Linked DNA regions of Homo sapiens. The protein of the gene in region 1 purifies or fractionates together with the protein of each later gene. This does not show direct contact. Each region holds a gene or a part of one and is shown on either strand. Other genes may lie near its edges.

The links.
Region 2: the proteins of SDHAF1 (region 1) and SDHA purify together in Homo sapiens (affinity purification with mass spectrometry; one large-scale study listed by BioGRID and IntAct). This does not show direct contact.

The regions. Positions count from the first base shown.
Region 1 is NC_000019.10:35,993,842-35,996,812, forward strand, and holds SDHAF1 (succinate dehydrogenase assembly factor 1, mitochondrial), read left to right. Parts: upstream 1-1,346; 5' UTR 1,347-1,433; coding exon 1,434-1,781; 3' UTR 1,782-2,471; downstream 2,472-2,971.
Region 2 is NC_000005.10:238,820-242,319, reverse strand, and holds part of SDHA (succinate dehydrogenase [ubiquinone] flavoprotein subunit, mitochondrial), read right to left. Parts: intron 1,963-3,500; coding exon 1,844-1,962; intron 1-1,843. UniProt on the Homo sapiens protein: Flavoprotein (FP) subunit of succinate dehydrogenase (SDH) that is involved in complex II of the mitochondrial electron transport chain and is responsible for transferring electrons from succinate to ubiquinone (coenzyme Q).

The DNA of each region.
Region 1 (2,971 bases):
GTATTTTTGATAGATACATACACCTGCCAGGCAGGATTCACAGTGGTTTGTGATTCTCCCCTGACTCCAAGACTCCAAGCCTAATCCCCGCCCCTGACCAGCTTCTCCTCTCTGAAGGGGAATGGACCCCCCAGCTGGTTGCCGGCCCAAGTGTGCAGAGCCGCGGTTGCGCGCTGGGTGGAGGGGTCCCCCAAGCTCCGGTGCTGGTGGGGCCCGAGGATGCTGTGTCCTTGCGGGCCTCCCTAGCGCTACGAGGACACCTCCAGGCGGCCCGCGGGGACAACAACGGCATTGCGGCCTACCACCTAAAGCTCCTGGGAGGACAACGGGGTTGCAGTCTAGTCGACTGTTCAGGGTGTCCCGGACTCCGGGCTTTAACAGTCGGTAAGGACCCAAACACCGCTGTCCACTGCCCCGACTCCCACCCGCAGAGGGCGCGACCAACCCAGCTCCTAGAGCCACACGCTGCCTCTGGGGGCTTGGCGCCCACACTCTCTCTGCTTGTCTTCCCCTGGCCCGAGAAGCCTGTCCAACCGGCCGAGAGCCATTTCCCTACGGGGTCTCGTCCCTCTGCACGTGCCCAGGGCTGGGACCCCAGACACAGACCTGCCCCGGACGAGGGAACGCACGGAGCTTCCCAAGATGGTTTGAATCAGTAACTGACGGCAAAAGCACGCTTGTGCCCGGCGTCTCTCCCAGTGCCCCGTGCCCTTGGGACCCAAAGTCCGAACCGGTAGCCGGGCGCGGTGGCTCACGCCTGGAATCCCAACACTTTGGGAGGCTGAGAATCGTTTGAGCCCAGGAGTTCGAGCCATTCTGGGCAACATAGGGAGACCCATCTCTGCAAATAATAATAATAATAAATAAATAAATAAATAAATAAATAAATAAATAAATAGCGGGCGCGGTTGCGCGCGTCTGTGGTTCCAGCTACTAGGGGAGTTGAGGTGGGAGGATCGCTTGGGCCCAGGAGTTCGAGGCTGCAGTGAGCCAAGATCGCGCCACTGCACTCCAGCCTGGGCGACAGCGAGACCCCGTCACACACAAAAAAACCCCTAGCTTCCTCTTCTCCCAGAATGCAGGAGTTAGGTGAGGACCCTCTGTTCCCTCCAACCCAAGACCTAGGAGTCCGAACACATAACGCCCTCCAGGCGGTGCCAGGATCCCCAGAACTGCTGTCCCCTCAAGAACACACGTCCCCTACGTGGGAGGCCGCGACCAGCGACTCCGCCCACTTCTCCCAGCCGGCTGTTACGTAACTGCAACGACAGCCAGTCAGACGCGGCAGCGCCGGATGGCGGGAGGCGGGAGTTGGAGGCCAAGGGAAGCGCTGGGCGGAAGTGGCTGTGGCTTTGCCCTTTGGCCTTTGCTGGCTGTGTGGCGGCTCCGCGGTTCGCAGGTCGTTCGCTGAGCGTCTCTGCTTAGCCGCGGTCATGAGCCGGCACAGCCGGCTGCAGAGGCAGGTTCTGAGCCTGTACCGCGATCTGCTGCGCGCCGGGCGTGGGAAGCCGGGCGCCGAGGCGCGAGTGCGGGCAGAGTTCCGGCAGCATGCGGGCCTGCCGCGGTCCGACGTGCTGCGCATCGAGTACCTGTACCGCCGCGGGCGGCGCCAGCTGCAGCTGCTACGCTCGGGCCACGCCACCGCCATGGGCGCCTTCGTACGCCCGCGGGCCCCGACCGGGGAGCCTGGCGGCGTGGGTTGCCAGCCTGACGACGGCGACAGTCCAAGGAACCCCCACGACAGCACGGGGGCACCGGAGACCCGCCCCGACGGACGGTGACAGGCGAAGAGCCGAACTCGCTCGATGGCGTGGTGGAGCCAGGAGGCTCGCCTGACTGCATGGGGGGACTGGGGAACCCGCCTAAGGTGAGAGGTCTTAAGAGACTAGCTTGACGAATTGGGGATGTCAGAGACTCCTCCTTGGCGACGCAGGGGGCCTAGAGAGCCCCGTGATGGACGGCAAGGGAGGCCCGCCTTTTCCGATGCTTGGAGACAGGTCGGTGCTCCTCCCCCATGAGGGCTTGGGGCGGCCTGGGACGCTGGCGGGCTGGACAGTGTCAAGCCAAGAGCTACTTGCCCGAAGGTACGGGGAGCCAGGACGACCCCCGGTGGACAGGGAGAGCCTGAGACGCCCTTCTCTTGACCCCTGAGAACATACCCACTTCTGGCTCCTCAAGGAGTCTCCCCTCTCCTGTATTTAACTCTGAGAAGTGCAGACTTTTTGCTGAGAACGTTTTGGGAAGGTGCCCTGATGAGCGGTGAGAAGCCCGGAATCCCCTTCTGGAAAACTTTCCCCCATTAATTGTGACAAGCCAGGACCATGAGGAAGGGGTAGGGGTCTATCACCCTGGTTGATCAACTGAAGACCCCCAAAGGCCCCTACTTGATGGTTTTGAGGGGCAACATTGACTCATTTGCCCCTTCCCTCTCGGAATGTTGGACAAAGGGAATAAAATTGGGGATATGTCTACTTCCCTGTTGGTGGTCTTAAAGCTTTTATATATTTCAGGATTTTTGAAACACCCCCAGCCCCCCTGCCACCACACACACACGCACACAGACACCTGGAAGGGACCATCTGGGAGGTGATAGGTGTGGGGATCTGACTCCTTCCGGAGCCCTGTAGACTGGCACATTGATTGAAGCGGCATAGTTTTCTCCCCTGGGCAGATCTGTGGAGGGGGCTCATCCTGGCTTAACCCCCAAAGATACCCCAGTTGGCTCCCTAATGGAGGGCAAGTGATTTAACATCTTTGTGTGGAAGAGGAAATGGTGGAGCTGAGAACTGGCTCGGAGCCCCTGAGGCAGTAGTGAGGGTCTCAGACCTGGAAATTTCTCAAACCTGGCTGAAGGGTCCAGCCTCAGCTACAGTGAACGACAAGGCCCTGGGGCAGGAGAGGGGAGATGAACCCCATAGATCACAGATATACTCCCTCCGGTGTCCCCATATGGGCCTGCCCTAGACATTCT
Region 2 (3,500 bases), on another chromosome or scaffold:
GCCCTCATTCTGGTAAACCAACAGCCTTCTAGCGTGGGCGTCATGGCCATCAAGAGCATGTCACAGTGCTGCAGAGATTTTGTTTATGGTCAGTTTTGGGCCACATTTGGGGGCCTGTTCCCAAAAATTTACCTCATTTCTTTTTTTTGCTTCTTACTATGAATAGCCAGACTCAGCAGAAAAATCCCTTCCCCAACGGAACGCATTTCCACGAGCAGAGGAAACTCTGTTTGTTCAGTGCTGACTCCAGCATCTCGTGGAGCCTGGGATACAGCAGGCACCAAGACACACCATGTTTGGTGGGAATGCTTCTAGTATTCTCACTTTAAACTATCTCATGGATTTGCCATTTCTATATCCGAAGGCATGTTCCCATTCTCTAATGCAATGGTTCTTTCTTTCCCAGCTGGCCTCCAACCCTACAATAGTACTGCAGGGCATCACTCAGCCTTCTGTGCCTTAGTCACACTGTTCTTCTCACCATTCCACAAAGCCTCCCTGAAGCCCAGCTTCACTTGAAGACTGAAGGGCACAGGCCTCTGAAAATGTCAGCAGGGAACCTGTTCTCCTGTGTCTAACACCACATAGGTGTTAGACACCTATTTCAGAATAGGACTAAAGCAATGGACTTTTTAGAAAATACACAGAAATTCTTGCAAATAGTAGGCAAGAGATCTCATTCATGGACAAGAATCCTTGTTATTAGAGGAATTCAGTTTCTTAGACTGACCATGTATCAGGTTCTCCACGGCCCCATGGCTAATGGCTGCCATACTGGATGGCAAACACTCGGAACATTTCCATCATCACAGATGGTCCTACTGGACCGACTCCCAGCAGCACAGGCCACAGATCAGTTTCCACCTGCCGCCCACTCTCCCTCTCTTCCGAGTATATTTAGAGGCAGCAACAAGTCCAGCTTAAAGACATTTCCGAGCTGCTGGAAGCCAGGCATGATGACATGATCGATATCCGGGCCTGAGATGTAAGCACCAGTGTTGTGTTGAACTCCAGGAAACCTCTAAGAGAAAGCTGCCCTGCTGGGGACTGAGCTTCTCCAGCGGTCCTGCAGTTCCCTCTCCTCCACGCTGTGACTCATCCATGACAGCCAGCAATGGTCAGGTCACGGAGGTCACACCCAAGCACACACGAGTGAACCACAGAAGGCTGTCCTGGATGCCAAGCAGTCACTAATTCTGCCCTAGTCTGCCGACCTTCTATGTGGAAAAGAAGTGCACTTCTGTATAGTTCAGGCCTCCTGGTCTCTTTCATATTCTTGATACGGTGAGGAGTACGTCCTACCGCTGTTTACCTCCAGATACTGGTGCAGCCTTATGTATTTATCGCAGCACTAGTCACAACAGCAAAGTCATGGAATCAACCTAAGTGCCCATCAACGGATGACCAGATGAAGAAAATGTGGTACATATATACCATGAAATACTACTCGGCCATAAAAAAAGAACGCAATCATGTCTTCTGCAGCCACACGGATGGAACAGGAGGTCACTATCCTAAGTGAAGTGACTCAGAAGGTCAAGTGTCACACATTCTCACTTGGAAGTGGAAGCTGAATGGTGAGTACACATGGACACATGGAGTGGAGTAGCAGAGACTGGGAGCTCCAAAAAGCGGGAGGGGTGGGGTTGAACAATTACCTACTGGGTACAACACACACGACTTGTGTGACGGGTACATGAAAAGCCCAGACTCCACCACCTCCCAGTACATCCACACAAAACTGCACCTGCATCCCCCTAGATCTAGTTTTTAAAAAACAAAACCAGTGCAGGGCCAGGTATGCAGCCCTCCTGCTCACTCCAGAGCGAGTCCAGGCTCTTACCTTCTGCATGCTGAGTCGCAGTTCCGATGTTCTTATGCTTCCATCAGCAAATCTCAATTTGTCAAGATTCATGACAGATTCTTCCCCAGCGTTTGGTTTAATTGGAGGGACTTTATCTCCTAAAACAAAAAAAAGCTAGAATTTAACTTTTGAAAACCGTTTTAAAAAACCAAATGGATTTAGAATGACACACAAACATGTAGCACAGCCACTCAAGGAGCTTGGAAACTCTGTAAGTCTCCTGAGCTAACACACTGCCAGCCCACCCTACAGCTGAGGCCATCTGTTGAGTTGGGGCCAATTTTAAAGAACATAAAGGCAAAATTGTTGGCACACAGTAGATATCCATTAAGTGATCTTAGAGTGAATAAACTAGAAATCATCTCTAAAATTAAAAAATTAAATGTAGGCCGGGTGCGGTGGCTCACGCCTGTAATCCCAGCACTTTACGAGGCCAAGGTAGGTGGATCACTTGAGGTCAGGAATTCAAGAGCAGCCTGGCCAACATGGCAAAACCTCGTTTCACTAAAAACACAAAAATTATCTGGGTATGGTGGCACGCGTCTATAATCCCAGCTACTCGGGAGGCTGAGGCATGAGAACTGCTTGAACCCTAAAGGTGGAGGTTGCAGTGAGCCGAGATCGCGCCACTGCACTCCAGCCTGGGCAACAGAGCGAGACCCTGTCTTAAAAAAAAAAAAAATTAAATGTATACAAATTTATATATATTAAGTGTATATAAATGTCACTCCACTAAGGGAAAAAAGAGACACCTTCCAGATGGTGGTCCCAAGGGGCCGGCCACCCTTCACATCAGCGGGGGGAAGGTGGCTGCTGTGTGCTTGAAAGTCACCTGTTGATTTGGACTCTTATGTGCTCTCAACTATACTTCAAGATTAGCAATTTTTTTTTTTTTGAGATGGAATTTTGTTCTGTAGCCCAGGTTGGAGTGCAGTCAGTGGCACCATCTCGGCTCACTGCAACCTCCATCTCCGGGTTCAAGCAAGCCTCCTGCCTCAGCCTCCAGAGTAGCTGGGACTACAGGAATATGCCACCATACCTGGCTAATTTTTTGTATTTTCAGTAGAAATGGGTTTCACCATGTTGGCCAGTCTAGAACTCCTGACCTCAGGTGAGCCACCTGCCTTGGCTTCCCAAAGTGCTGGGATCACGTGTGAGCCACTGCGCACAGCCAAGATTTGCAACTCTTGTGTTTCTACGATGTCTTGAAAAAAGTTTTTAAGTTTTTTTTATAACGTTATATATATTTTCTTCAACAGGTAATACATGCAGGAGGTAGGATGTATGAAATGCAGGAGTCAAACAGGCCCCACCCCGCCCACCACCTCTCCACAGGACCAGGCTATGGGTCTCTTGAGGGTCTGCTCAAATGCTTCTAGGCTCGCTGGTGTTTCTCTTCCTTTTGATAATAATGCTTTAAAAATTGATCATTCAGTAAAATTGACTTTTTTCTTTAGGTGGACAGTTCTACAATTTACTTTTTCTTTTTTTTGAGACAGTGTCTCCTCCCTCTCTTGCCCAGGCTGGAGTACAGTGGTGTGATCTTGGCTCACTGCAACCTCTGCCTTCCAGGCTCCAGCAATCCTCCAACCTCAGCCTCCCAAGTAGCTGGGACTACATAGGTGTGAGCCACCAT